2 linked regions of the Homo sapiens genome follow. The protein of the gene in region 2 interacts with the protein of the main gene of each other region in a pairwise test. Each region holds a gene or a part of one and is shown on either strand. Other genes may lie near its edges.

Evidence for each region.
Region 1: the proteins of ZNF564 (region 2) and GOLGA7B interact in a two-hybrid assay, tested with the Homo sapiens proteins (one large-scale study listed by BioGRID and IntAct).

Annotation. Positions count from the first base shown.
Region 1 is NC_000010.11:97,855,804-97,860,869, reverse strand, and holds part of GOLGA7B (golgin subfamily A member 7B), read right to left. Parts: intron 1,413-5,066; coding exon 1,287-1,412; intron 1-1,286.
Region 2 is NC_000019.10:12,524,006-12,528,181, reverse strand, and holds the end of ZNF564 (zinc finger protein 564), read left to right. Parts: intron 1-265; coding exon 266-1,736; 3' UTR 1,737-2,809; downstream 2,810-4,176.

The sequences.
Region 1 (5,066 bases), on a different chromosome or scaffold from region 2:
ACCACTGCCCTGCCCTACCCAAGCTGACGCCCTGCAAGCTTCCTTTTTCAAAGTTCCCAGGTGCCTCTAAGGTGTAGCCAAGGATGAGAAGCAGCGCTGTTTCTGAAGAAGACCAGCTGAACAAGACTAGCAATTCCAAGTGTAATCTATGAACCACTTGATTCTGATTCACCTGGGAATTCCTCATTAAAAATTAAGGCTTAAGACCTAGTATTTGGGCTGGGCATGGTGGCTCACACCTGTAATCCCAGCACTTTGGGAGGCCGAGGAGGGCGGATCACTTGAGCCCAGGAGTTTGAGACCAGCCTGGGCAACATGGCAAAACCCCGTCTCTACTAAAATTACAATAAATTAGCCAGGAGTAGTGGCACGAACCTGTAACCCCAGCTACCTGGGAGGCCGAGGCAGGAAGATCACCTTAGCTGGGAGACAGAGGCTGCAGGGAGCTGTGGTCACACCACTGCACTCCATCCTGGATTTCCATCAAGGGAAAAAAAAAAAGACCTAGTATTTGATAGCACAACAGGGTGACTATAGTCAATAATAATTTAATTGTACATTTTAAAATAACTAAAAGAGTATAACTGGATTGTTTGTAACAGATAAGATAAATGTCCGAAGTAATGGATGCCCCATTTACCCTGATGTGATTATTACACATGGCATGCTTGTATCAAAATATCTCATGTACCCCTGCTAGGTACCCACAAAATTATAAATAAATAAATACTAAAGTTTAAACAATCATGATTAAAATTCATTTCAAAATTAAGATTTAAAACTATGCTGATTCCAGAGTCCCACCCCTAGAGAGTCTAATGTAGTTGGTTTGGGCTGCAGTCTGAGCATCAGGATTTTTTAAGCTCCCCAGGAACCTCTAATGTACAGCCAAGGTTGAGAACAGCTGCTAATAAATGGAGACTCCTGAGCCACAGTCCAACAACTGGATCAGCACTGCTGGACAACACCTGTATCATCCAGTAGGACTCAGGAATTTCCATTTGTTTAACAAGCTCTCTATATCATTTTTAGGCAACTGAAACTTGAGAGCAGCCAGACCAGAAAATCCCTGAGATCCCTTCAGCTCTAATTTTCTATGAGGAGACAGTAAGACAATATTAAGAATCATCCTTTTGATTTTTTAAAATTCATCCTTTTGAAGTGGCCAAACATGTTACGTGTCCTATGATATTATGTGTCATAGGATCCTGGATAAAATACATTCCAATAAGAACCTCAGTTCCATCACAGCCCTGGGTTCCAAGTGCAGAAAAAGGCATCCTTACCCGGCTGTCCAGCTCTGGGGGGAATTTGGTCTGGAACTGACAGATGGTCCCATCGCTGTAGTCTCTCTGGATAAAGACCTTGGTGGCCAGTGAGGCACTTCGCCGGAGCTCCTGCAGATTGTGGACCTGAGGAGACGTGCGGGCGGCATGTGCTGAGAGTGACCATCCATCTCGGCATATCCCAAATGCAGGGGTTTCCCAGAATGCAGGTCTTCCAGCACTAACACCAGGAAAGTTCCCAGCATGCAGAGACAAGCTGGGCACTCTACAGGTGCTCCAAGAGGCCAAGGGAGGCAGGGCTGTGGGGTCTACCCAAGAAGCTGCCCTGAGCTATCCCAGAGAGATCTTTTAAAAGCCTAAAGCAAGGCTGGGTGCAGTGGCTTGTGCCTGTAATCCCAGCACTTTGGGAGGCTGAGGTGGGAGCATTGCTGGAGTCCAGGAGTTAAAGGCTGCAGTAAGTTGTGATTGCACCACTGCACTCCAGCCTGGGTGACAGAGCAAGACCCCAACTCTAAAAAAATTTTTAACAAGCCTAAAGCAGGGCCAAAGTTGAGTCTCTCTCGCACGTGCACGTGCACACACACACACACACAGAAGAACCTTTCATACTTTCATTCATTCACCAAGTACCAAGCGTTCACTTGTGAGACCCTGTGCCTGGGGAACCCAGCACTGAACAAGACCAGTGCTCCAGTCCTGCCAAGTGGAGCTCACAACAGAGTTGCAGGCAGGGAACATGTGGGACAGAGGAATACCTGAGGTACCCCTGAACTCAGAGACTGGGGTCCAGGCCGAGTTTTATGGCCCCGGCCAGAGAGCACCCCAGATGCTTTTCACATCCAGCACTTCTCACCACAGGAAACAAAGGGCCCATGAATGTCCAAACTTCTCCAGAGAATAGTGTAGATGAAATGGACAGAGGCCAGAAATGGAAGAAATAGCCTTCCCTGGCAGGAAGGAGAGGGGAGATATCTGTCCCTTGTGCACATCTGTGGACTTCACATTGACACAGACTCTAGTGTTTGAGGGGAATGGGCTCAATTCCACAGAACAAGCCCACTTTTTCCACCTCTCCAGCCTCAGTCACCCACATTCAAGACAAGCATCCCACTGGTTGAAATATGCCCAACACTGAGAACACGTGGAGACCAAGCCCCAAAGGCAGAGTGAACAACAGCCAGTTCATCCCATGTAATTAAGCTGGATCCATTCAGTCACTCAGCTCTCATTTATTGAGTCTCTCCTAGTGCCAAGCTCTGGGGGTGCTGAGCAAAAGAGTCTGTGAGCTCCAGGGAGGAAGACAAGTAAATATATAATGAATTAGACAGTGACAAATGCCACAGAGAAGTAACATCTTACCCAGAAATGCTCACTCAGAAAAGGCCTCCTGAAGCCTGTGTTGAGTCATAAAGGAAGTCCAGGGGTTACCAGTAGCAGGGGGCAGGCAGAGAGTGTGGAGAGGGAGGAAAAGGCAACCCAGGCAAAAAGAGAAGCTTGCGCAAAGTGACAAAGATAGAGCACATGGTCTACTAGAGGCAGATTTCAGCAAGAATGGAGGTGGTTTGCAGATTAGATAAGAAACAGTGGGAGATGAGATTGTAGAGGAGGCAAGGGTCAGATCACAAGAAGCAGGAAAGATTCCTGCTGAAGGGGAGGATTTAGGATGACAGATACTTAAACTTGCTTAAACACCGGGGAAAGACTGTGTTAAAGATCAGTTGGTTATAGGTATGTTGCTTTATTTCTGGGTTCTGTGTTCTGTTCCATTGGTCTATGTGTCTATTTTTGTACCAGTAACCCATACAAAACCTGCTGTTTTGGTTATTATAGCCTCGTAGTATAATTTAACGTCAGGCAATGTAATTTGTTCTTTGCATAGGATTGTTCTTTGCATAGGATTGTTCTTTGCATAGGATTGCTTTGGCTATTCAGGTTCTCTTTTGGTTCCATATAAACTTTAGCATTGTTTTTTCTAATTCTGTGAAAAATGATATTGCTAATTTGATAGGGATTGTGTTAAATCTGTAGATTGCTTTGGGCCGCATGGTCATTTTAATGATGTTGATTCTTCCAATCCTTTAGCATGGGATGTCTTTCCATTTGTCTGTGTTATCTACGATTTCTTTCATCAGTGTTTTGTAGTTCTCCTCATAGAGATCTTTCATTTCCTTGGTTAAATGTGTGTGTGTGTGTGTGTGTGTGTGTGTGTGTGTGTGTGTGTCTGGCTATTGTAAATGGGATGGGGAAAGGACTCCCTATTCAATGAATGGTGCTGGGAAAACTGGCTGACCATGTGCAAAAGAATAAACTGGACCCCTAGTTCTCACCATATACAAAAATTAATTCAACATGGATTAAAGACTGAAATTTAAGACATGAAACTGTAAAAATTCTAGACGAAAACCTAGGAAAAACTCTTCTGGATATTGGCCTAGGCAAATAATTTATGATGAAGTCCCCAAAAGCAAATGGAACAAAAACAAAAATAGACAAATGGGACTTAATTAAACTAAAAAGTTCTGCACAGCAAAAGAAATAATCAACAAAGTATACAGACAACCTACAGAAAGGGAGAAAATATTTGCAAATTATGCCTTTGACAGAAGACTAATATCCAGAATCTATGAGGAACTCAAACAATTCAACAAGAAAAAAAACAACCCCATTAAAAACTGGGCAAAGGACATGAACAGACATTTCTGAAAAGAAGAAATACATGCTGCCAATAAACGCATGAAAAATGATCAACATCAATAAGCATCAGAGAAATGCAAATTAAAACCACAGTGAGACATCATGCTACACCAATCAGAATAGCTATTATTAAAAAAACAACAGATGCTGGCATAGATGCAGAGAACAGGGAACACTTATACTCTGTGGGTGGAAATGTAAATTAGTTCAACCTCTATGGAAAACAGTATGAAGATTTCTTAAATAACTAAAAAGAGAACTACCATTCAACCCAGCAATCCCACTACAGGGTATCCTCCCAAAGGAAAATAAATCATTATGTTAAAAAGACACCTGTACTCATATGTTCATCATAGCACTATTCACAATAGCAAAGTCATAGAACCAACTTCAGAGTAACAACCATCAACACTTGACTGGATAAAGAAAATGTGGTATATATACACCATGGAATACTACACAGCCATACAAAATAATAAAGTCATATCTTTTGCAGCAACATGAGTGGAGCTGGAGGCCATTATCCTTAGTGAACTAACTTAGAAACAGAAAACCAAATACCACAAAACACACTTTCTCACTTATAAATCTAAGCTAAACAAGAGGTACACATGGATATGAAGATGAAAATAATAGACACTGGGGATTCCAAAAGAGGGGAGGGGGTGAGGGTTAAAAAATTACCCATCGGGTACAATGTTCACTACTTGGGTGATGGGTACACTAGAAGCCCAATCTCCACCAATATGCAATATACCCATGTAACAAACATGCACATGTACTCCCTGAATCTAAAATAAAATAAAATTTAAAAACAAACAAAAATCTTGGGAAATAATAAATAACTAGGAAAGGTTATCAATAAAGTAGAAGGAGCAGATAATTGGTAGATCAAGGTCCTGAAAAGGTGGGAATCCAAAAACACTATATGTGACTTTCCTAAATCCAGGTGGACCTTGCTGTATGTACGAAATGTGATCTCAAAGTATTGTGACTGGATTAAATAATGTATAAGCCCTCCTGTAGGCTTATATGAGTTGATTCCTCTAATCAAGGTTTTCATTGAGGAAATCCCCTTGATATCTA
Region 2 (4,176 bases):
GAAAAAGAAAAAGTGGCATAGATGTTCAGTGTTGCAAAATCATTCACTTGGAAATAGTATTAAGAAACTGTATATATGGATATCACTTTTTTGGTGATAGCTACTGTCAAGCTCTCTTGCAGAGCATTCCATCCATTCACTTTCAAACAATTCATACAGGCCTGAAAACTTACCCTTTCCGCGATTATGGTAAAAATGTAAGTCGAATACCTATTAATAAATATAAAGTCACAAACCACTAAATCTTGCTTTCTATTTTTTCCAGAAATCATATGGAAGAGGGACTCAGTGAAAGTAAAGAATATGATCAATGTGGAGAAGCCTTCAGTCAGATTCTCAATCTTAATCTGAACAAGAAAATTCCTACTATAGTAAGACCATGTGAATGTAGTTTGTGTGGGAAAGTCTTCATGCATCATTCATCCCTTAGTAGGCACATCAGATCTCACCTTGGACACAAACCATATGACTATCAGGAATATGGAGAGAAACCATATAAATGTAAGCAGTGTGGGAAAGCCTTCAGTTCTTGTCAATCCTTTCGAAGACATGAAAGAACTCACACTGGTGAGAAACCCTATGCATGTCCGGAATGTGGGAAAGCCTTCATTTCTCTCCCAAGTGTTCGAAGACACATGATTAAGCACACTGGAGATGGACCATATAAATGTCAGGAATGTGGGAAAGCCTTTGATCGCCCAAGTTTATTTCAGATACATGAAAGAACTCACACTGGAGAGAAACCCTATGAATGTCAGGAATGTGCAAAAGCTTTCATTTCTCTTCCAAGTTTTCAAAGACACATGATTAGGCACACTGGAGATGGACCTTATAAATGTCAGGAATGTGGAAAAGCCTTTGACCGCCCCAGTTTATTTCGAATACATGAAAGAACTCATACTGGAGAGAAACCCCATGAATGTAAACAGTGTGGGAAGGCCTTCATTTCTTTCACAAATTTTCAAAGTCATATGATTAGGCACACTGGGGATGGACCTTATAAATGTAAAGTATGTGGGAGAGCCTTTATTTTTCCCAGTTATGTTCGAAAGCATGAAAGAACTCATACTGGGGAGAAACCCTATGAATGTAATAAATGTGGTAAAACCTTCAGTTCTTCCAGTAATGTTCGAACACATGAAAGGACTCACACTGGAGAGAAGCCCTATGAATGTAAGGAATGCGGGAAAGCCTTCATTTCTCTCCCAAGTGTCCGAAGACACATGATAAAGCACACTGGAGATGGACCTTATAAATGTCAGGTATGTGGTAGAGCCTTTGACTGTCCCAGTTCATTTCAAATACACGAAAGAACTCACACTGGAGAGAAACCCTATGAATGTCAGGTATGTGGGAAAGCCTTCATTTCTCTTAAAAGGATTAGAAAACATATGATACTGCACACTGGAGATGGACCTTATAAATGTCAGGTATGTGGTAAAGCCTTTGACTGTCCTAGTTCTGTCCGAACACATGAAAGAACTCATACTGGAGAAAAACCCTATGAATGTAAAGAATGTGGGAAAGCATTCAATTATGCCAGTTCCATTAGAATACATGAAAGAACTCATACCGGAGAAAAACCCTATGAATGTAAGCAATGTGGAAAAACGTTCAGTTATTCCAGTTCCTTTCAAAGACATGAAAGAGCTCATAATGGAGATAAACCTTACGTAAAGAATGTGGGAAAGCTTTCATTTATCACACAACCTTCGAATACCTGTGAAAATGAATAGTGGAGGACAGGTCTACAAGTATCTACATATCTAAAGAATATGGAAAGTCTTCAGTTTGCTTTCTGGGTTTCAGACTTGTTTGGGAGCTCACCCCTTTCTCCTGTTTCTCACTTTTGGAATAGGAATCTCTATCCTGTGCCTGTCTCATATTTTGGAAATACATGACTAGTTTGGTTTTCACCGGTTCGGAGCTGAAGAAGAATTTTGCCTCAGCATGAATTGAGTCTCATCCATATCTGAGTGATGTGATATTGAGATGACACTTTGGAGTTTGAGTTTAAACATTAGGCTTCATGCTGGAATTAACTGAGACTTTTGAGGCCTTTGGGATGAGATGAATATATTTTACATGTGATGACATGGATTTTGGGGGCCAGAGGTGTAATGTTTTGGCTGAGTGTATGCCACCTCAGATTCATATGTTGAAACCTTACCCCCGTGCCCCCCCTCTCCCCCACAATGTGATGGTATTTGGAGGCCCTGTCTCTGGTGGTTTTTAGGATTGGAGGACATCATGAAGATGGAGGCCTTGTAATTGGGATTAGTTTCCTGATAGGAATCCCTAGAGAGCTAGCTTTGCCCTTCACCATGAGAGGGTGCAGTGAGAAGATAGCTATCTTTGAACCGGGAAGCAGGCCCTTACCAGACATGGACTATGCCAGTGCCTTGATATTGGACTTCCCAGCCTCCCAAACCATGAGAAATAAATGTTTGTTGATTAATTAAGCTTTCCAATTTATGGTATTTTGTTTTAGCAACCCAAGCTAAGACACAATCCAATTTTAAAATGGAGGAAAGGACTTGAATAGACATTTCTCCAAAGAAGATACCCAGATGGCCAATAAGCACGTAACAATGCTCGACATCTTTAGTCATTAGGGAAATACAAATCAAACTCAAGACATACATAGCATCTCATTAGGATTAGTAGTATCAAAGATGGAAAACAAGAAATACTGTCAAGGATGTGGAATGTTGGAGAACATTGTGCACTATCACTGGGAATGTACAGTGGTATAAGCCTGCTGAAAACAGTATGGCAGATCCCCAGATTAAAATATAGAAATAACATATGATCAGCATTTCCATTTCTGGGAAAATAAAAAGATTGAAAGCAGGGCCGGGCGTGGTGGATCACGCTTGTAATCCCAGCACTTTGGGAGGCCGAAGCAGGCGGATCACAAGGTCAGGAGATTGAGACCATCCTGGCTAACATGATGAAACCCCGTCTCTACTAAAAAAAAATTAGCCGGGCGTGGTGGCAGGCGCCTGTAGTCCCAACTGCTCGGGAGGCTGAGGCAGGAGAATGGCATGAACCCGGGAGGCAGAGCTTGCAGTGAGCTGAGGTCGCGCCACTGCACTCCAGCCTGGGTGAGAGAGCAAGACTCCGTCTCAAAAAACAAAACAAAACAAAAAAGATTGAAAGCAAAGTCTCAAATAGGTTTTGTACACCTGTGTACATAGCATCATTCACAATAGGTAAACTCTGGAAACTACTCAGGTTTTCATCAACAGATGAATAAACAAAAGGAAGTTTATACATACAAGAGAATATTACTGAGTCTTACAAAGTAAGGAAATTTACAAATATGCTGCAAGATGAACCTTGACGTGCTAAGTGAAATGGGCCATTCATGTAAAGACAATACGGTATGATTCTACTTATATCAGGTATCTAGAGTAGTCATATTGATAGAAAAAGTACAATACCATTTGCCAAAGGTTAGGGAAATTGGGTAATGGATAGTTATTTCATGGGCATAGAGTTTCAATTTTGCAAGATAAAAAGGGTTCCAGAGGTGGATGGTGGTGATGGTTGCACACTAGTATGAATGTTCTTAATGGCACTGAACTGTACACTTAAAATTGATTATGATGGTGAATTTTATGTATGTTTTACACACAAAAAAGGGAGAAAAGACCACAGTACTGCATAGACCTTGTGGGACCTTCAGCATACCAAGACACTCTAGGTCTCTCTTTTTTTTTTTTGAGATAGGGTCTTGCTCTGTCGCCCAAGCTGGAGTGCAGTGGTGAGATCTTGGCTCACTGCACCCTCTGCCTCCCAGATTCAAAGGCTTCTCATGCTTCAGCCTCTTGAGTAGCTGGGATTACAGGTGCGCACCACCACACCCAGCTAATTTTTGTATTTTTAGTAGAAACGGGATTTCGCCATGTTGGCCAGGCTGGTCTTGAACTCCTGATCTCAAGTGATCTGTCCGCCTCGGCCTCCGATAGTGCTGGGGTTACAGGCGTGAGCCACTGCGCCTAGTCTCTAGGTCTCTTTCCTACTTGTTCTCAGCACTGTTTTTTTCGTTTTTCTATCCATGAGGGACCTGTTCCTACACAGTCCATTTGGATTTTAGTAGGCATTTAGATTTGATCCCCAGGATTGACTTCCCTGTCTCCTCCCCCCTTCACTGTAGACCTGGACCTCACT